Regions from separate parts of the Homo sapiens genome. Here all the other regions are reported to be linked to region 3. The links are microRNA targets in miRTarBase. Many come from high-throughput screens and were not tested one by one. Region 3 holds a microRNA gene; each other region holds the end of a gene's coding sequence.
What was found. The annotated mature microRNA hsa-miR-6510-5p reads CAGCAGGGGAGAGAGAGGAGUC and lies in region 3 at 2,910-2,931, opposite strand. An mRNA with a match to its seed (bases 2 to 7 or 8) in the 3' UTR can be bound and repressed. Matches are read on the target gene's strand: a 7mer-m8 pairs with bases 2 to 8, a 7mer-A1 pairs with bases 2 to 7 and ends in A, and an 8mer does both.

Region 1 (7,331 bases), not on the chromosome of region 3:
GTGGCAGCGAGGAGGCCAGTGGGGCAGGGGTAGGCAGTGGCGGGGCCAGCTCAGATGCCATCTGTAGAGACTTCTTGAGGAATGTGTGCAAGCGAGGCAAGCGTTGCCGATATCGCCACCCAGACATGAGCGAGGTGTCCAACTTGGGGGTGAGCAAAAACGAGTTCATCTTCTGCCATGACTTCCAGAACAAGGAGTGTAGCCGCCCAAATTGCCGTTTCATCCATGGCTCCAAGGAGGATGAGGATGGCTATAAGAAGACAGGAGAGCTTCCCCCACGGCTGAGGCAGAAAGTAGCAGCTGGCCTTGGCCTTTCACCGGCTGACCTACCAAATGGCAAGGAGGAGGTCCCTATCTGCCGTGACTTTCTCAAGGGTGACTGTCAGAGAGGAGCCAAGTGCAAGTTCCGTCACCTGCAACGGGATTTTGAGTTTGATGCTCGGGGTGGAGGAGGCACTGGTGGGGGCTCAACAGGCTCAGTCCTCCCAGGACGACGTCATGATCTCTATGATATCTATGACCTTCCTGACAGGGGCTTTGAGGACCATGAGCCAGGCCCAAAACGCCGGCGAGGTGGATGCTGCCCCCCTGATGGCCCTCATTTTGAGTCATATGAATATAGTTTGGCTCCACCGCGAGGGGTGGAGTGCAGACTGCTAGAGGAGGAGAATGCCATGCTCAGGAAGCGGGTAGAGGAGTTAAAGAAGCAGGTCAGCAACCTGCTGGCCACCAATGAGGTACTACTGGAACAAAATGCTCAGTTCCGCAATCAGGCCAAGGTCATAACCCTGAGCTCCACTGCACCAGCGACTGAGCAGACTCTGGCCCCCACTGTGGGCACTGTTGCCACTTTTAACCATGGCATTGCCCAGACTCACACTACTCTCAGCAGCCAGGCTCTACAGCCTCGTCCAGTGTCCCAGCAAGAACTGGTGGCCCCTGCTGGAGCTCCAGCTGCTCCCCCAACTAATGCTGCACCTCCTGCTGCTCCACCACCCCCACCCCCACACTTGACCCCAGAGATCACGCCACTGTCAGCTGCCCTGGCTCAAACAATTGCCCAGGGAATGGCACCTCCACCTGTCTCCATGGCTCCTGTGGCTGTATCTGTGGCTCCTGTGGCCCCTGTGGCTGTATCGATGGCCCAACCCTTGGCAGGAATCACAATGAGCCACACCACCACTCCCATGGTGACTTACCCTATCGCTTCCCAGAGCATGCGCATCACGGCCATGCCACACTGATGGGGCTAATGGACACTCCCCTGGTATAGCCTCGCAGGGCTGGGGTCAGGGGGCCCTTGCCCACTCACCTAGCCTTCCCCATCCCTGTCTGAAGGGCTCCCTTGAGAACTAGGACAAGAGACTACAAGGAGTATGTCCTGAGGAGGGGTTGGGATGGTGTGTTTTCTCTCACCTCCCTTTTATGAGGGTCCTCTTGTCCATCTTCAAGCCTCACAGTGGGGGCTTGCAGAGGAGTGCAGACTGAAGCCAGCAGAGAGGAAGGACTGACTGAGGGGCTGTGTCCTCTTATGGGAATTTGGGAACATCCCTCGTCTTGTCCTCTCTTCTGCACAGCACAGGTTCCAGCACTGGTTTTAGAAGAAAAAAATACCCTGCCCAGAGGGAAAGCCAGGAAAGATTGGGAAGTGGGTGGTCAGGAGAGAAGGCCTGATAGGAGCCTTCAGACAATTTGGGTCCTAGTTGCTTGGGTTGGACAATACAGGAATTGCTTCTGGGCCCTGGGAAAGCTGGGACCATAGTGCTCCAGCCCAAAGACTAGGGGAGCATTCATTACCCTAGTTTGACCTGAAAATCCATAGGGCAGGGCCCACTACTTTCCAAAGAAATAAAAGAACAATTATTTTTAACAAATGGAGGCAGTGAAAACTTGCTTAGCTATTCTGTGTGGAAGATGGGAGCAGTAAATAGATCTCATGCCAAAATGGGATAAAGACCCCAGCCTCACATAGCTTTGGTAAGATGGATAGAAGCCAGTGAAGAAGGGTAGGGACCCAGAACAAGACCAAATGGGGCTTTGGGGAAGGCACTTTATGGGGTAAAAGCTTTGGAGCCACCCAGTCTAGTTTTAAAAATAGTCCCATCTGTTTCTGGTCTCTGTCTGTATGTGCTATTCCCAGGTTGCCTCAGTAACCAGGGCTCCTAGGGTCATTTAGCAGGGCAGGCAGTAAGGAGAGTGTATTTGCTGAAATGCGGATGGGATGTTACATAGTTGACAGATCCTTATTCAAACAGAGCAGGACAGGTGGAGTTGATGGCCATTGAGTTGATGGCAGTTGCCGCTCAGTTGATGGCAGTTAATGTCCCTCCTACCCCACCCCTTCAGTGGCCAGTTCCTGAAGCCTTCAAGGCTTGGGAGGTCTGGGAAAAGAGAGTCCTTCTAGGGACACAAGCCTCAGGGTCCATCCCTTTCCTCTGTCTCCACATAGGACCAGAAGTTTTAAATCTACTTAAGTCAGTAAGGCCAGGGGCCCCAATAGTCAAACCTCAGTTCCTCCTCAGCTCACGGCTGATGTAGGGAAAACAACTCAGGTGTCTAGTCTAATGGGACAGTAGATTTGGGGGTAGAGAGTGATCCTGGATTGTGTTCCCCCTCATCATGTCTCCTGCTACCTCTTGCTTTCTTGTCTGGTTGATCACTCAGGTCACATCTGGGATTGGAGATGGTGGGCTAGGTCAAGGCCAGTCATTAAAAAAAAAAGCCTAAAGACTAAAAGTGGGCTAACATTGTGGATTTTAGAAACAACACATTGATAAGCTTAATGTTTTTTGGGACACAATTTTTTTTTTTTTTTTTGAGATGGAGTCTTGCCCAGTCACCAGACCGGAGTGCAGTGGCGCAATCTCGGTTCACTGTAACCTGCGCCTCCTGGGTTCAAGCGATTCTCTTGCGTCAGCCTCCCGAGTAGCTGAGACTACAGGCGCCCGCCACCACGCCCGGCTAATTTTTTTATTTTTAGTAGAGACGGGGTTTCATCGTGTTGGCCAGAATGGTCTCTATCTCTCGTGATCCGCCCGCCTCAGCCTCCCAAAGTGCTGGGATTACAGGCATGAACCACCGTGCCCGGCAATTCTAGACTATTAAAAGAGATGGTTTAAGAGCATTTAGAGAAGAATGTAACCATAGATACCAACATGAATTCTCAGTCAAATCCTGACTGACTTTATTTCCTCCTTGCCAGGTTATCTCCAAAGAGGTAGATTTGGGAAATTTTAGACATTGTATGTCTTGTATGTATTTACTCCAGCTGAAGACCACCAAGAATACACCTGGTAATTGAGCAAGTTGGGTTTAATGCTCATTGCAGTGAGGGGGAGGGCTCACCATTGGGGATAACGTGGTGTGTCTCAGCATGAGGGTGTTAGGAACGACTTAGAGAACTTAGACTTTGGTTAAGTGATTTTGGGGAAGATTCAAGAAAGTGGGTGTTCTTTTGGATTGGGTGCTGTTAAGGGAATCCAGGATAATTGGGTAGCTTGTCTAGAAGAAGGGCAGACAAGTGAACCTAAGCACAGTCGATGATGAAGTCACTCACTAGCTGGGAAAGGGGATGTTTGCTGTTTTGTGGTTTGCACACTGACCTTGTTTTGTGCTTAAACAAAATTGTGTAGTGATTTTGTTTTTTGTCTCACTTCATCGCAGTCACTGAGTGACCTTGTCTGATGCTGGTGTTTTGTGAGATTGTTTGTGTCCAAGAGAACTCATTGGCTACCTGTGAGCACCAGGTCAGCCCTAACAGCTCTGAAGCCTGGCTGTGTCAGGCCAGTTCCCAGATTACAGGAGCTACTTTCCTCTCTCTCACCTGCTAAGTCATCACAGATAAGAGGAAAATTACGGGTCAGTTAATCGTAGCATTTTTTCCATGCAAATGGCTCTGGTTAAAAAATAATGAGAAAAAAATAGTAGCATTTGGTAGAATCAAACTGAACACTTGTACTTAGTGTTGGTTAGCGCATTTATGTTAGAGAAATCTCTGTTCTCTAGTGATAAGCCCAAGGGCTATGTTTTATTGTAAAAAGAAAAAACCCAACTCGGGTAAACATGTAAAAAACCCATTTATCAACAGTAACACAGGAAGAGCTAAATAATATTCAAAGTGTCTGTAACTTGAATTGACTAAAACACTGGAGCACTCTCACACTAAAAAATTGCTTAGATCTTGAACTAGTTTGAGGAACAATGTTAGAGATTTATATTAGCAATAATTCACATGAGAACAAACTGGGACTTCCAGTTGGCTGCAAAAAAATAGAATCTTAGCCCTCAAGATGTCCATTTATAAATATTTATTAAGAGCCTGCTATGTTCTAGGCATCTTTCTAGGAGCTCCATAAGGGTAGTAGAACCTTGGTAATAGATTACAAATACAGCAGTTCTATGTTCTGCCTAAGTGTAACCACTTAGTAGTGTGTTGTTCTAAATGTAATTTTTAAAGAGGGCCATTGACAAACCAGTGTGTTGCTAGAAAAAAAAGGCTGGCAAGAGAAAGCTTCAAATAGAAGTCTTCAAATATTTGAAGGGCTGCCCAGTGGAGGAAGATCCTGTTTGCTACACAGGAAGTAAAAAGGGATTTCTAGAATAATGGCTAACTTTTTTTTTTTTTTTTTTTTTGAGACGGAGTCTAGCTGTGTGGCCCAGGCTTCAGTGCAGTGGCACGATCTCTGCTCACTGCAAACTCTGCCTCCAGGGTTTACGCCATTCTGCTGCCTCAGCCTCCAGAGTAGCTGGGACTATAGGTGCCCAGCTAATTTTCTTTTTGTATTTTTAGTAGAGACGGGGTTTCACCGTGTTAGCCAGGACGGTCTCCATATCCTGACCTCGTGATCCGCCCACCTCGGCCTCCCAAAGTGCTGGGATTACAGGCGTTGAGCCACCGCACCCAGCCGGCTAGCATTTGTTGACTGCTTAATATAAGCCAAGGCTCTGTGCTAGGCACTTTACATGCAACATCTCATTGACACAATGGGTAATATTATTGTACCCATTTTACAGAGGAGAAAGCAGGCTTAAAAAGTAACCTGCCCAGGGTTCTGCAAGTAAGGAATGGGGCCAGGAATCTATTCAGGCAGTCTCACTCCAGACGACAAAAGAAAGTTCTAATGATATAGCCATCCAACAAAGCGATCACTACTTGGCAGTAATTTTTTTTTTTTTTTTTTGAGACGGAGTATCACTCTGTTGCCCAGGCTGGAGTGTAGTGGCGTGATCTCGGCCCACTGCAGCCTCCGCCTCTCGGGTTCAAGTGATTCTCCTGCCTCAGCCTCCCAAGTAGAGTAACTGGGATTACAGGTACATGCCACCATGCTCGGCTAATTTTTGTATTTTTAGTAGAGACGGGGTTTCGCCATGTTGGCCAGGCTGGTCTTGAACTCCTGACCTCAGGTGATCCAACTGCCTCGGCCTTCCAAAGTGCTGGGATTACAGGCATGAGCCACCGCGACTGGCTTGGCAGTAACTTTTGAGGAATAAAGAATACAGAAGGAGTTTCCTCAAATCTTGTTGCCCTTCCCATCTTTGTGAGCTGAGATCAGAGTACCGTATCTCACCCTCTGCCTCTTGGAGGTGATTATGGTTTACATATAAATGCAGATTGCAAGTCCAGGAAGTTTACTCTCTCTCCTCCTGTAGGCCTCATCCTGTAAGACACTTCCTCTAACAAATGGGCATCCCTTCCTGTTGTCCACTTACTGCTTATCACCACCAGGTGGCACCTGGGCAGCAGAATTGTCAGTGGGCGGGGACCCACCCTGTTTACTTGTGTTGGTAACTGCATTGCAGCTGCTGATCCTGTGGCTCCTGGGCCCCAGCTGGGACAAGAACTTCCTGAGGATGAAGTTTTATCCCCTATATAATTTCTGATGATCTGGATGAGGTGAGGAAGGGAGAAGTTTGGAAAAGAACCTCCATAGGTCACCCTCTCCATTCCCCCATTCTCAGGAACCTCCTTGCCTACTCCAGTGCTTGGCAAATTTCAGTTTATAGAGAGGTTTCTCTCTAAGGTTCATCCATGTTCCTTCTGTAGTTCTGCTTTATCAGTTGGTGAGCAGGTCACTCATAATTCCTCCAATTTCCTTGTTTCCCTTTTCTACCTGCTTACCTCTGGGAATATGGAGGATATAGGAGACAGAATATTGTTTCTTAAATAGTTCTGCAAACTGAATGAAGCAGTCAAGATACTGCTAGCCCTAGGGAAGTAGAGAAAAGGAAGTGAAAAAATTTAAGTGATAGAGGCTGAGCAGGGACAGGTTTTAAGCAGCTTTGGTAAACACAGGCTGATGAAATCTATGCCCTGCAGAACCAGATAAAATTTATCAGCTGCAGGCCTCATCCTGTAAGACACTTCCTCTAAGAAATGGCTAGTTTCTTCCCAGTGATCAACCCCAGTTCTTCTGCTGCATCTGACAGATTTACATAATATGCCCCATATATACTGCATTAAAAGGTAATCATCTTATGACCAACACTTCCCTCATCAACTTCCAATTAGTCTAGTTCCTAGATCCTAGGACAACACTCCACCTCTAACGCCAGTTAACTAGTAACAATAGTCATCGGTGTACCCTGCACTTTTTCCTTCCTAAACCTACACCGTACACTGTGGGACTGCACTAGTTCTGCACCTGACTGTATGGCAAACCTTCCTTCTAACTCAGGCAAATGTGAAAAGGAATTGTCTTTCCCTTACTCTTGATCCCTCATTTTAGTGTCCTAGAAGTTCTTCAGGGTCAGAAAATTATTGGAAAATGTAATAATTTGCGCTGCCTCCCTCCCTTTTGGAGCCAACTAGTCTTACATCCATCCTCTAAGATAGAGATGACTTACTAACTCTTGGAAATTTCCAAAAAGAAATAAAGCCTCACTTTCTATTCACTCTGCTTTTTTTCCCCCTTTCCCTGAAGGCTGGATTATCTCAACTCTGTAATTCTCTGACTCTCCAGTTTTCTCCAGGGTCAGTCGTTACACCACACAAAGAAGGTAGGGGATTAGGGACGGGATAGACGGGGTTAGTTTTCAAACACTTTCATTCCAAATACGATCGTATCCTTTCCTTTTGTAAGGGCAGGCAGGAAAAAGTTGAAGGATAAGGAATGTGCTTAGAGTATGAAAACTAGAGAAAGTCGGCAAAAGAACATATATATATATCCCAGACCAAATCCTGCCAAACCGAATGAGTAGAGGGAAATCCTGAAGCTCCACAACCCCTCAACTTCGCAACTTGGGCTTTCTCCAAAACCAAGAAATTGGCGGTGCAGCTCTGCATGACGTCATACCACAGGCACTCCAATCCCACGTGGGGGAGCTCTTGGTCC
Region 2 (7,331 bases), not on the chromosome of region 3:
GTGTGTATGTGCTTGTATGTTAGGAGGGGAGAATAAGAGGGAAGGAGAGAGAGAGGGGAGAGAGAGAGAGAGAGAGAGAGAGAGAGAGAGAGAGAGAGAGAGACTGACTGATTGTGGATGTGTGTGTACATCAGGGAACTCGATGGGAAAGCCTAGCCCTTGTAGTCAATTTCTCCTTCACAAGGGGATAAACAGGCAATTACGCATCCTTTTATATTTGATGGCCAAGTGCTGAACTGGAAAGCACACTATTAGTTTGTGTCCCTTCAGGGCCAGGGCAATAAGTAGCCAGGAGAGCTGGGCTGAAGCAGAGAGGGTGTTGTCTGCTGTTAGTGTGACAGTCTTGTCAGCAGCGTTCACATTACTGGAAGGTAATAAAGTGACAAGTATGTTATTAGAAAGATACGAGGTGAAATTGAACTGAAGCTTCTTGCTGCTCAGCCCTGGCTTTTTTCTTTCCTCTTTTGTAATGGTCCACTATTTGTTACAGACTGAGCCTTGGTCTTCATATCCTATATAAAAAAGATTTTTTTTTTTCCTGCAGTAAAGGTCAAATGAATTTACAACAGCACTTTAGAGGAGAAGAATAAAGATAGTTTTATGACAACTATAGTATGTTGCTCCAAAAATATATATAGCATTATAATGAACAATAATGCTGATCCAATTCAGTGTACATGTAAAAATGCTTAGTTTTTTTTTTTTTTTTAACCTCCTGTTATTTGGATTTGGATTAAAATCATTTGGATTAAAAAAGATTTGGATTAATCTTTTGGATTAAAAGCATTTGGATTTTTCAACAAATGCCAAAAAGACAGTATGCCGAATAACATAGTTATTGCCGAATGAGCACAGAAAATCATTTTGCGCAAGATGTGGGAAGGATGAGGATGATGAAACTACACAAGGAAGGACGGGTATGTGGGCAACAGTGATGACAGATAACTCACTGGTCAGTTGTACAGCTGGAATTACACAATACTTTTTGAAAATGACCATTTATGGTGAGCAACACTCCAGCTACAGGAAATATGCGACTCGTCTGGGACAGATCAAACATGACCTTAGTACTAACGCAAACAAGACTACCACGTGTGGTTTATCTCTGAGGGAAAATGTGAAGAGAAGTTACTTACATACCTCATAGAACAGTAAATGAGCTCCCATTTTGATCAAGGTCTTTAGCCTAGTATTAATTACAATCATGGCTTTGTTGTGTTGCTACAGTGGCAAGCATGAGTAATGATCAAGAAAGGAACGATCCATGCTGGTGCCATTCGCACCTACTCCTCTGTTAGGATGAAAACGAGGTGTTACCACTGGCCTTTTCTATAGCCTTGCTGACCCCTGGCATCTTTCGGTTCTCAGGGGATTCCAGCAACACTTCCCACTCAAAAACAAAGCAAAAGCAACCAAAACCCCACAATTGTCGGCTCTTCCTGACCCCAAAGGAACTTCAGCTATTTCATGCAGCTGTACTTGCTTTCCTAACCCCTTCCTCAGAGCCGACTCACCTGGTCATAGGAACTCTGCAGGTCCCTACGATCAATACGCTCTCACCCACTGCGAGGCAGAGCTATGCCAGTCTTTTCTCTCGAGCCAACATTTCCAGTGCATTCATGATTTCCTTTTCTAGCTACCCCAAAACCAGGGCAGGAACCGACCCTCTACTTAGTTCTGATGAAAACACTGTGATCCCTCCAGTCTTTCTGGTATCTTTTATTGCTCATCTTACTCATTTAGATCCATCCCCAAAAAATAAACAATGAGAGGGAAAAGCAAAACCACCTAATTTAAATACTTCAAGTTTGGGAGAAGATAAGTGATTTTAAAGAATGAAATTCGTTTGTCATAATTTTAAAAAAGAAGCTCTTAAGAAAAGGGTGTGACCACAGGATGAAAAAAAGTTTCTTCTGGATGATTTGTTTCTTGATGATAGCAGATGTAGCGTGTCTTATGACAGGTGAATTTTATTTACTCTGTTAGTCAATCTAACCCAATGCTAACAGACCAGATACAAGTTAGGACTGCTCAGGTCAAGCTGTCAGCAGTTAGCAGCATGTCCATCTCAATCTGGTGACTAGCTTCTTTATGCTTTAATTGTCAACGGCCCTCATTCTCATTTGCTTGGCACATATCTGGGGTGTGTACAGAGAAAGGGGAAAAAAAGGTCACATTGTATTTGGTGGGAACCTAGTGCATAGTTTCTCCTGAGGAGAAGCCTCTGGAATAGCCCATTCTTGATATATTCAAAGTTTTTTTTTTTTTTTTTTCCTTAGAGCAATGTATAATAATGGGGCTGTTAACCAGTTAAGTGCCTTTCTCCTCTTACTGGAAGGGCCTGAAAATTCATGACCAAAGAAATAACACTATGAGGACAGTGGCACCATTGTGCCAAAAAGGTTTTAAAAAATGTTTGCCATGTTGAAAAGGAAAACATTAACACCTTTAAACCTTTAAAAGGCATCAGGCTGAACAGGGCAGCTGGACTAAGATCTGGAATGAGTTACATTGGGTTGACTTATTTAAATACAATTAATATCAGAACAAAGAATGCCAAGGATTTTTATCACACTTTTAAACCAAATTCCTCATTATCTATCCTTTTTTTCTCTCTTTCCATAGCATGCAGATATTCCCGAAAGCGGACTAAACCTGATATTTACAAAAACATAGTTTTAAATGATCAAGACAGTACAAGTTTCAACATCAGCTAGAGAACATGCACAGTCATACCGCCTAATTTTGTACCTGTGATAAACTCTGGCTAAAACCAATCACATGGGGAAAAGCTTGTCGGATGAACATCTACATCACTATTAATTTTCAGCCAGCATAGAATGCATGTGGCTTGAGAGAAACTGTTTAACAACAAAAAACTCCTATGAAAAAGCAAATGAGTAGGAATGGGCAAAGATGAGCTCCATGACTAAAACGCTGATCTCTTTATCCTTCCTGTTTGCAAATAAGCCATGGGATCACCATCTTAACTAGAATTCTAGTTAAGTCAAAACAAGACACTCAGGCACACACTCAAGAACGAGCAATACTTTGGAAACAGAAGAATTGTACATTTTATGATTTTCCATTGCATGTACTACATCCATCCACTCCCCTGTCCCTTTTAAGCAAATAGGCTTTATATTGGAAAATGTTATTTACTCATTTAGAAGGCCACCGTAACGACTGGGCACTTGAGGCACAAAAGTAGTAGCAAATAGGGGAGATACTTAAAAAGTGTCAGCTGTCCAGGACTTATTGCCACTTCTCTGACAAAACACAGGTGAACACATTCATGTTTCCAAGCAAGGGAAACTCTACTTCTAGAATCTCATTACTTCTGGACTTTTTCTAACTGGCTATACACATTAGCTTGGTTTGCAGCAAGTAACAAACATTTGTTCTAAGCCTGGTGCATTTGCTGATGTGACTGCCGACAGCTATGTAATTCACTCACGAGGGCTATCTGACCTTTTATTTGACATTAAATTAAACAGACTAAACATTGCTGTTGTACAAGATGAGTTCTAGTAACTCAACTGAGTGTAACTTTTCAAAGTTGCTGAAATAAAAATGTGTATTTATTTTCATAAAACTACATGTAGTCTATGCACACTGCAAAAGCCAGAGTTTCTATAATGTTTTGTTGGGATATTAAAAATCTTTTCCCACCCTTTTTGAATCTAACCATTTGGTAATGGGGCAACAGCACAACACAGAGAACGCTGAGAGGACCAAAATGTTTGCAAACAAACTTTCATTATTCTAGTTCAATCTTTCACAAACATACTGTACAGAGTCTTATATGGTATAAAACAAAGGAAAACATCTGTCTGTTCAATTTAACACAACACCAAAATAAAGCAATTAAGACTTTGGGGAATTCAAAGTACAAGAAAACAAAAACGATTATTACTAATTCCTCAGCTTTTTACCATAAACACTTGTCATTTAACATAGTGTTTGATATAGTTTCTTTTGTACTGCAAATACTTTTGGTCTTTCCTCCCCGTAGAACAAATGAAGAATTAAAATGGACCCCATAGCATCCTCTGAAGGAGGTGAAAAGATAAAGCTCCTAGACATAGCTAGCTTATCTTTAAGAATCTATTGTTTCTGAAATTTTCACAACAAAAATACTGAATCCCCAACTAATGATGCTTATTTTGGGAAACAATAAATACTGTGAGGTACAATAAATCCTACAGGAATAATAACAACAGAAACATATTAACAGTTTCCTTTGGCAAATTTAACGGAAGTGAATGCTGATGTGAACATAGAAAAAATAATTACAAAAACATGAAAAATGGAAACGACATAAAAGTTAAAATAAAGGGATATTTCTAACTTTTAGACTGATGAAAGAAATGTCTGAGGCCATTAAATGCAAAAAAGAAATACATTCTCTTTAAATTATTGTGTACTGTTTGACAAAATATTCCTTGTTTATCTCTTCTTTTCCCCTCCACTTAAAAAAAAAGGAAAAAAGAAAAAAAAAAGACAACAAAACAGTCTGCAATGCACACCCTAATGGTTTTGGCTGCAGACTGAACTTGAGTAAATATCATCATTTAGTCAGTATGTTGTGGTAGCTGAGGCTGCCGATGTGGTTAACCAGCTCAGGCAACATGTGTAAACATCGGAAACAAAACAAAACAAAAAAGGTTTGGAGAATAGTCTCTCTCCTCTTTCTCACTCTCAATTGCTTGGTTTCAGGCTTGCTTTCATTTCTCTCTGACAAATCGTGTGGGGAAACACAAAACACTGAACATTGAGAGATCCTGCTTTAAAACCCCCTTCTTCTGGCTTTTCAGAAAGGAGTGTTGCTCCATTCAAGTTTAGCACATGTTTTCAAAGCTTCCAAGTACTGCTGCTGTTAAATGCCTTTTGATTTTGTCTACCAAACAGGCCTGAATTATAGTACGACTGCAGAATTTGCAACAAATTAGACAGCCATACAACAGACCGACCCAGTTCAGAGGATTTCTTTTTAAAGGATAAGGGTTAGGGCCTTGGAAATGAGTGTTCGACTCTTTTACTGTATTCATCTTTGTTCCGTAGCGGGTAATTTGGGCTTTTGTATCCTGAAATATTATCCTGCCTCTGAAGAATAAATGCCTTGGCTGTTTCACACCACATAATTTTGTTTTCCTTTTATGTAACTTAACGTATAAGCAAGAAGGATGCAATGTTGATTCTAATAACATTCGGCACTTGAAAGAATCACCAAGTGTTTTTTTAAAAAGCGGTTTTCTGGTGGCCAACAAATTGGCCTGTGGTTATGTTGAGTGACTAATTGTATTTTCTTTTCTGGAAACTTGTGCAAAGTTGGCAGTTTTGTGTTAACACTAATACTTTGTTTGGCATTTGTGCCCTATACTGACCAGACCATTTTTATACAAGTGAATTTTTTTTAAAAAAGACACTTACTGAAGTATGGCAATAGTTTAAGGATAAAAAAGAAGCATGGTTATTACACATCCCCTTGTAGTGTATGAAAAAAAGTGCATGACGGGATTTATGTACTAGTACAGGACATTTTAAAAAATCAGATCTGTGCTGTAAAGCATGCCAGCACCTCTTTAGCACTATATCTAACAGGTAGTAAAAACAAGACCATGTTTTTTTCTTTTTTTAAAAATGTGCATTAATGCTAACATAAATGAATAGAGCTAGCCAGCAAACTATCTTTTCCTGCATATCTAACAGCTGGATGTAACTGTAAAAATTAAACAAAAAAGTTAAACAACCATCAATACAATTGTTTTACATCAATGGCCCCTCAAGGCTAAATATTTACAGGTGAATCTGCCATGCTTTAATTGAAGATTCTTTCAAAACCTTAAAGTTCACAAAAGACAACTATAAGAAGTTCCTTTTTGTTTCTTTTTTCTTTTTTTTCCCTTTTATTTTTGCAGGCAACAGTCATGGGTACAACAAATTGTCTCTTTGGGGAAGACCAAGAATTATTCTGTCAAAACTGGGGCTAGTTGCACACTGTGTGTGTGTGTGTGTGTGTGTGTGTATGTGCATGTGTGTGTGTGTGTGTTTAAAGGGGTACTCTGTTTTCACCCTGAAATCAAAGATCCCACTCCTTTCCCAAAACTATAAAGGGAAGTGAAAAAAATTCAAAAGCACCTAGTGTTTATCTTGTTTATCTCAAGGAAATACGTGTGTGTATATGTAGCCACAGAGCATACATAAATGCACACACACACACACACACACACACACCCCAAGTACATAAGCGCACACTGACTATGGCAGTTCAAACACGTAGGCCATCTGGTGAGAGCTGGCATTTGTAGTGTCCATTCTGAGACTAATCTACTGAAGTGAAGGGAATGTTTTTGTGGAGATTAGGGTTCTGACTGTGCCGATTTCGGCTTCGTACAGAGGAAAACATCATATTGCAACCTGGGACTTTGCACTTGTGCATTTCTCTCAAATGCACAGTTTTGTAGTGCACTCTCAGGGTCCCCTTGTTGCTGTACATTTTGTGGCAAATGTTGCACATGATCCCACCATTGCTCCCAGACAAGCTGCTGAACATAAGAGATCCTGAAACTTCAGCCCCTAGGCTGCCAGGGAGGGCAGGGGCCTCGGCCTTGTGTGCCGACTCCCCACTGTCACTCGCCCCGTCAATGTCATCGAGAAGAATCCCCTCATCGCTGCCTGCGTCGGATTCTCTGGAGGAATGGATACTGCTGCTGGACTGGAGGCTGGAGGTGGTGCTCAAGTCAAGGACCATGTAGTCCTCTGCCATGCCTCTCCCATACCCGTTCAGGTGGGAGTCTTCAGTCCCTGCGGGAGAGGAGGCGTCTTCCCTGACATCGAGCCCCATGGGGTGCTGGGCACCATATATCTTCACCAAAAATTCATCGCGGAGGTCCTTGCTAAGGGAGGGCTGCGACGAGTCCAGGCCCATGTCATCGAGTTCTTTGGTCAACAGTTTACGATGTAGGTTTATGTTGGCACTGTGTCTAGGAAAACAAGAGGGAAGGGGGGGTACGTGGATGGGGGGTGGGGAAAGGTGAGAAAAAGGAAAGCATTTTAAAATTGATTCAGCTTTCACTAGGTATCAAATAAGCACATTCACTTCTAATTACACCATTATAAAAGCAAGCATTCCCCTATATCCTCAGGATCTGGGAGTTAGTGGTGGTGGTGAGAGGTGCAATCAGGGGAACTTTCCATTAACATTATTTTTATAAGAGAGTTGACTCTGTCAATGGTAGGATGAATGCAAACCCGTGCACCTTTTTCTCAATGATTACTCTGTTAGTTTTACTATGTAGCAGCATCAGCTGCAGAGAATTTCATGGCAG
Region 3 (7,331 bases):
AGAGATGGGCAGTGGCAATGGCAGGTATGCCCGGCAGGGAGCAACAATGTCAGGGTTTTTCAAGCTGCACATGAAGGGGGATGAATTGTGGGCATCTTAGCGGAAGTGTATGAAGATGGGGCCTGGGGGAGAGACATGCCCTGAATGAAGCCTACTCAACCTGGAAGTTTCTCAATAAATCACCAGCTGCAATCTCACCTGGGGCTGACAGAAGTTCCCACTGGGGAAGAGGCATCTAATGAATGGGAATGTTCCCACCTAATGGGATGTTTGGGCTCTTTCTCCTTCCTCCCTATTCCGAAGGGGGTGGTGGCTTCAACATCTCCCCTCCCCACCCCACACCAGAAGAGTAAAGCCTTCCTACCTTCCCTGATGGCAATGCCAGCCATCCTGAAAGAAAGAGGGAAGCTGATTTAAGCAAAGGGCACAAGCTCAAGTGTCCGTAAGGGAAGCTCATGTAGATAGCTATGCAGTGTTCTTCAGACCCTACACCACCACCACCCACACATCTGACTCCTCTAGGGGTGGGACATCCTGCTAGCCCATCCAGGCCTGCTATCCCCAAGTAGACAGATTTTGTTTTGTTTTGTTTTGTTTTTTGAGACGGAATCTCACTCTGTCGCCCAGGCTGGAGTGCAGTGGCACGATCTCAGCCCACTGAAACCTCCGCCTCCCGGGTTCAAGTGATTCTTGTGCCTCAGCCTCCCGAGTAGCTGGGATTACAGGCACCCGCCACCACGCCCAGCTAATTTTTGTATTTTTAGTAGAGACGGGGTTTCACCATATTGGCCATGCTGGTCTCGAACTCCTGACCTCAAGTGATCCACCCGCCTTGGACTCCCAAAGTGCTGGGATTACAGGCATGAGCCACTGAGCTGGTCAAGATTCTGAACTACAAGAATACCCATCTATCTCATGCAGAGAATGGAATGAGCACTAGATCTTAACTACCACTAGCCCAGCCTCTATCATTTACAGAAGAAACACGGATCCAGAGAGAGGAAGTGACCTGTCCCAGGTAACAGCCAAGGACCAGAGTGAGGAGTCCAGATCCTCCCTCCTTGCTCAGTTCTCTTTTCACAGTCCCTCAAGGCTGCTTAGGGACACCCTGCCATTCCCTTAGGATGACCCTGCACCCTAGCCACAAGCAGCCCTCATCACTCCTTCCCCTGTGCCCAGGCGCCTACTTGGCATCCTGGCCCTCGAGCAGGCTGCGGTAAGTAGCGATCTCCTGCTCCAGCCGTGTCTTTATGTCAAGCAGCATCTTGTACTCCTGGTTCTGAGCCTCCATCTCGCATCGGAGCTCACTCAGCTGGGCCTCCAGGCCACCAATGAGCCCCTGGATCTGCTGCAGCTGCGTGGCATAGCGGCACTCTGTCTCGGCCAGTGAGTTCTCCAGCCCAGCTTTCTGGGGGAGTGACAGATGCATAGACACATCAGGCTAGAAAGGAAGCCACTGAGGGCAAGCAGGGAGGGGGCACTGAATGGAGTTCAGGGAACCACCTCTTGAGGGGGCTTGAGAACTCCAAGGCTTAAATAGCCAGGAAGAGTGGGAGCTTCTACCACCCGAGAGGCTGGGATGGGGCGCGAGTGGCCGTACCATGCTGAGCTGGGACTGCAGCTCGATCTCCAGCTCCTGCATCGTGCGTCTCAGGTCTGTGATCTCCGTCTTGCTGGTCTGGATCATTTCTGTGTTGGAGGCCACCTCTTTGTTCAGCTCCTCAGTCTGTAGGTCATGCACAACAGAAGTGAGCCCCGGGGCCTCCTCGGAGACTCAGGGACCTGGGGCAGGAAGGGCAGGGCAGGATATAAGGCCCACCTTGCTGAAGAACCAGGCCTCGACATCCCGGCGGTTCTTCTCCGCCATGGCCTCGTACTGCTCCCTCATCTCTGCCAGCACACGGGTCAGGTCCACACCCGGTGCTGCGTCCATCTCCACATTGACCTGGCCGGCCAGCTGGCTGCTGAACTCCTTCATCTCCTGCAGGATGGGAGGGACCCACTTAGAGACGGAGAGCAGAAGAGAGACCTGAGAGTCTGGCGTCACACATGCCAATCCTGGCTCTGCCCGTAACACACCCCAACCGCTGTTCCCCATTGCACATGAAGAGGTTTGGTCACATGGACCCCTCAGCTCTAAGGAGTTCTCTGCTGCTCTAGGTCCTACCAAGGGAGGACCCCGAGACTGTAGGGCCCTGATGTGAGCTCACAAAGCCAATCAGGAAGTCAACCATTCATACGGGCCACCTGGGCTGGCTGTGGGCCTGGGCTACCAGACACTGCCCCTTCCTCTCCATGAGGACACCTGGTTTTGTGGGGTAGGTGTGTTTCTGAACCACTAAGCCCCAGGCCAACTATGAGGAAGTACCAACAGCCCCACTCTGCCTCCCACTGACTTAATCTCGTGAAAATCTGGGAGGGCTTCCTGGAGCCACTGTCTTTCCCTCTGGGCAATTTAAGTGAGTTTTGGGAAGAGGTTCCCCACCTCTCTCGGGTTCAGGGGTGATGGGGGCCAGCTCTCACCTCTTCGTGGTTCTTCTTCAGGTAGGCTAGCTCCTCATTCAGGCCCTCGATCTGCATCTCCAGGTCAGTCCTGGCCAGGGTCAGCTCATCCAGGACTCGGCGCAAGCCGTTGATGTCAGCCTCAACGCCCTGGCGCAGGGCCAGCTCATTCTCATACCTGAGGAGAGGGAGGCCAAAGAAGGAAGTGGGAGGGGTCTTGGCTGCCTGAGTCAGAGCCAGGAGAAGGCCAAGTAAAGTGGGCAATGCAGGAAGAGGAGAGAGACGGGGGAGCGCACTTGAGCCTGAAGTCGTCCGCAGCCAGCCTGGCATTGTCGATCTCCAGGATGACCCGGGAGTTGTCGATGGTGGTGGCCATGATCTGCAGGAGACAGAGTCGGTGTCTAGAGGACTCCTCTCTCTCCCCTGCTGCTCTCTGCTCTGCACCCAAGGCCAGCCCCTCATTGAAAATCACCCCTCACTGACAATCACCCCTCTGACACCACCAACAAAAATCTGTACGGCTTCTGGGGTGGGCAAAGTCCAGCCTCACTTTCAGTGTCCATTTCTTGTTTTGTCCCATCCAGCCTCCTTGAGACACCTGAGGAGCTGCCTTCCTTATCTCCAGGGCACGAAAGACCAAGGAGGCAGTATTGCCTGTGGGAATTGGTTGCCCAGGAGAGTGGGGCAGTGGGGTGCAGCCAGCTCTGACAATAGCTCTCTCAGAGACACTCCACCAGCCCCACTGTGGACAACTCATGGTCACTGCCTCCTGCACACCTTGGACACAGCCATGGATCTACAGAACATTCCAGCCAGTAGCAACCTGGAGGGCAGTTAAGAAGGCATTTTACGAATGAGGAACCCAGTCTTAGGGAGTAAAATGGTGAGTGAGTGGGTGGCAGAATGTGTAATGAGTTCCCAGGTCTCCTAAGACCCAACAGTACTTTTGGCACAAAAGACCTCTTTATAGGAAAAGACAAGAGGTTCTAGCATCTGGAACTCATGAGGCCACACTCCAATCCCATTCTTGCAAAAGAGGTAAAGGAATACTTTATGCAGAAGCCTGCAGGGTGCATGAGGTAGGGAGGGCGAGTTGCTCTTTTTTTTTAATTATTTTTATTTAATTAGATACAGGTTCCACTCTGTCACCTAGGCCGGAGTGCAGTGGCACAGTCATAGCTCACTGCAGCCTCTAAATCCTGGACACGAGCAATCCTATCACCTTGGCCCCCCAAAGCACTGGGATTACAGGTGTGAGCTACTGCCTCTGGCTCTTTATAATTGCCCCCACCTGTGCCCCTGTTGGTCCTAACCAGATTCCCAAGACCCCTCTCTCCCTCCCCCAGCACCACCAAGTTGAGAAGATGTGCACTGGCCTCTGCACCTGGACAGCAGGTGCATTCCAAATTTGCTGAGATTACATACCAGACAGTCATTGCCTGGGCAGGAAAGGATTTCCTTGAGTCAGCAGTAACACTGACATTAGAGCTGTGTACAGGGTACCAGCCACCTGCTCCCCTCTCTTTGACATCCGAGGACTCACCTTGTCCCGGAGCTCTTCAATGGTCTTGAAGTATTGGCTGTAGTCGCATTCTGGGCTGGTTGGGGTCTGCTTCTGGTACCAGTCATGGATCTTCACCTCCAGGTCAGCATTGGCCTCCTCCAGGGCACGTACCTTGTCCAGGTAGGAGGCCAGGCGGTCATTGAGGTTCTGCATGGTAATTTTCTCATTGCCAGAGAGGAGACCACCATCGCCACCACCAAAGCCACCACCAAAACCCCCACCAACGCCCCCTCCAAAGCCTCCACCGAAAACACTACCAGCCCCTCCACCAAAGCCACAGACCCTCATGCCACCCCCATATCCTCCTCCTGACCCTGAAGAGACAAACCTAGCAGAAGAAGCTGAGATACTTCGGCTTCCACCTCCCCCAGAGAGACTCCCCCCACCAAAGCCACCTCCCCCAGCCAGGAGGGAACCCCCTCGGGTTGAGCCACCCCCAAAGGTGGAGGAAGAAGTTTGCAGAAATGTGGTGGTCATGGCCAGGTAGCTGGAGCCCGTGAGTTCTCAGCAAACCCAAGAGATGCTGGCAGGAGGTACCAGGCCAGGCTGCACGCTGGGGCTCCTTATATACCCTTCAGAGGGTGTTGTGGGACCTCGTCTCCTCCCCTAAAGCAAAGCCAACTCCTTCTGCCTTCCTGACAAACACAGCTGCCTGCACACCTTGAGTGGGTCATGTGAAGTTTTTCTCTTCTATTTTTTTTTAATGCAACAAAAGAGATGATTCAGAATTAATAGTGTTTTTCCCCAGGGCACGGTTTTAACACTTGGATTACAGGTTCATCTCTCCATGCCAGAAGAGAGCAGCAGGGAGCGAACTCTCATCACAGCACAGCTACCAAGGCCTCTGCCTGTACTGAGAGCAGCTCAGGCCAACTGTGCCCTCAGCTGGACTTCACTTCCCCGAGCCCTGAGCCTCTCCCCAAGAGGACAGCTCCGTGTTCTTAGTTTGGGAGTCCACTGGCCGATCATTATGCTGTGTTATCCAACTCAAAACCCTGTGAGTGAGTGAGTGAGTGAATGAGTGAGTGAGTGAGTGAGTGAGAGACTGCAGGGCTCAGGGAGAGTGGAGGCCCTGGGGATGGGAATGCAGGGCCCCTGGGGGCAGGTGGAGGACAGGAGCCAGGGACCTTGAGTAGTGTTCCAGCTGAGGTGACCAGAGGAGCCAGCATCCATCCCCTTACCTGGTGCTGCAGATGGACTCCCCTCCTCCCACCTCTACTCCCCTCCTGCCATCCTCCAGCCTGTGTTCCTGGCACCCTCACAAAAGCCCAGCAGGCTTGGGACTGACAAGGGGATGACTGATGATCCCGACACCTGCCAACTGCACGGCGCTGAACCTTTGCTCGTTTCTGGGATGTGTTGGGGCAAACCTCCGCTGATAAGGCTGGGGCAAGTTCCAGGAAGCCCCTGCCTTCTCCAGGAGAGGCATGTCGCTGCTTAGCAGGGCCAGATTAGCCCCCATCTGTCCTGTCAAGTGCTGGCTGGGGACGGGCCGCTGCAGAAGGCTCTATGTGCCTGAATGCTGTGGAAGGGAAGAGAAGGGAGACTGGCAGGCAGGCTGGAAGACACCGGAGATCTTGAAGACCAAGGCATTGCTTCACACAGACGGGGAGTTGAACACTCAGGAGAGCCCTTTTCTCTGCCACCAGCTCAGGGACACCTTTCCAGGGACACCTGATACCTGTGGGCAGTGCCACTTGGAGGTGTGGCTCAGCCCTCTGGACCTGGCCCCAGGGCTTACAGAAACTCAGGAGGAGGATTCCTAGCCCAGGTTGCAGCATGGTGAAGTGGACAGGGCTCTGGAGTCCCTCAGGCCCGGGTTTGAATCCTGGCTTTATCAATTATCATGGTAAGACTGTGAGGCCTGGGTTCAAATCCTGACCCTACCAATTACCATGGTAAGACTGTGGACATTTACCTTTTTAAGTCTCTGTTTCCCTGTGGCAAGGGGCGCTCTCAACTCTCACTTCCAGGGAAGCCCTGTGGCCCAAGAGCCCCCATCCTGCCCCCTCCTGGATCCCCACCCAGGTGCCAGACATGCAGGGGCCAGGGTGCATGACCGGCACCTGCGCCTGAGTGCCCTCACCAGGAGGGGCTTTGTCGTTGGGCATCAGAACATGCCCTGTGAGCCTGAGCATGTTCTTAGGCTCAACGGCATCGACCTTCCATAGCCAGCTCCTATGGGGCAACGCAGGTTGTTCTTAGGTTCTTATTTTGCTATAATAGCATAATCCTTTACTTCTACCCTGCACTTTGTGATTTACAAAGCACTTTTGCATCCATCACCTCCTCTCATCCTCACAACAGAGGGTGACCCCCACCCAAGATTCAGAAAGAATGAAATTGAAACTTGGAGAGGTGAAGCAACTTGTGCCAGGTGGCACCACTGGTAAGGGGCAAAGCCAGGACTCAAACAGGTCCTCACACCCTCAACCAAACAGGGCACAGGGAAAGAGTCCTTCCTGCAGACCCCAAATTCCTGCATCTGAGCTGGGCTGGCAAGGGGAACTGCCAGCCAGCAAGGCTGGGGGTGGGTTCCTTCTCATCCATCTTCGCAGTGAGCCTGGCCTCCAATGCTGGGCACAGACAGTGTGGTATTGTCTCATGGGTGGGAGGGTATTGTCTTTTCCTCCGAAAGAAAAATAATCAAACTCAGATCATCCAGAGCTCATTAAAAGCCTCTGCAGACATTGTGGCCCCAGCAATTAACTCAAGAACAATTACTCGCCTTTCACCCCAGGGTGAGGAAGGGCTGGACCCCAGCCAGATCCCCTTCTGCACCTGACTCTCCTCCAGCAGCCCCTCGAGGTGGCTTTCTCTATACTCTCAGGCCCAGGCCAGGGGCGGCAGCTGCCCCCCTCACTGCCCCACGCACAAATCCCTGGTTTCAGTCCAAACCGCTACTGTGAGCTCCAGATCTGGGTGGGGCCCGGAGCCTCCTCATTAGCACCAGGTGGGATGGCCTTGCGAAGATAAAGCTCTGTCTGGCCCCAGCCCAGGCTGTAGCCCCGGGCCCTGCCCCAGGCAGCCTGCCCAGGATGCTGTGCCAGTTTCTGACCTTTGCCCACTGCAGCCAGATGGGGCCATCTGTGGAGCTGGCCTTTTCTCCTTAGAATGAGGCAGTGCAGCCCAGTGGAAAGAGACTCAGCCTCTCTGAGCCTGGTTCCTGATTTAAACTTAGGCCATTAACACAGACTCCCCTCAGGGCCATAGTGAGCATTTGAGGGCACAAGGAGAATGAAGTCTCCAACAACCTTAGAACCCT

Region 1: miRTarBase lists ZC3H10 as a target of hsa-miR-6510-5p. Seed matches in the 3' UTR shown: 7mer-A1 at 2,626-2,632, 7mer-A1 at 3,823-3,829 and 7mer-A1 at 4,318-4,324.
Region 2: miRTarBase lists BNC2 as a target of hsa-miR-6510-5p. The part of its 3' UTR that is shown has no 7-base or 8-base seed match.

What each region holds. Positions count from the first base shown.
Region 1 is chr12:56,120,624-56,127,954 of GRCh38, forward strand. It overlaps ZC3H10 (zinc finger CCCH-type containing 10), which reads left to right. Exons shown (of 3, transcript NM_032786.3): 3 at 1-6,891. The coding sequence ends at 1,244. Among named protein-coding and RNA genes, the nearest start is that of ESYT1, 4.0 kb to the right of the region's middle. RefSeq lists enhancers at 532-1,529, 5,617-5,876, 7,316-7,331.
Region 2 is chr9:16,412,664-16,419,994 of GRCh38, forward strand. BNC2 (basonuclin zinc finger protein 2) reads right to left here. Exons shown (of 7, transcript NM_017637.6): 7 at 1-6,986. The coding sequence ends at 6,326. It overlaps LOC124902125 (a long non-coding RNA gene), which reads left to right. Exons shown (of 3, transcript XR_007061425.1): 3 at 2,626-2,713. Among named protein-coding and RNA genes, the nearest start is that of LINC03041, 140 kb to the left of the region's middle.
Region 3 is chr17:41,514,285-41,521,615 of GRCh38, forward strand. It overlaps MIR6510 (microRNA 6510), which reads right to left and starts at 2,933; the gene lies at 2,880-2,933. KRT15 (keratin 15) reads right to left here and starts at 4,606. Exons shown (of 8, transcript NM_002275.4): 1 at 4,046-4,606; 2 at 2,799-2,881; 3 at 2,524-2,680; 4 at 1,820-1,981; 5 at 1,601-1,726; 6 at 1,188-1,408; 7 at 365-390. The coding sequence starts at 4,543. RefSeq lists enhancers at 2,357-3,241, 4,946-5,945, 7,059-7,331.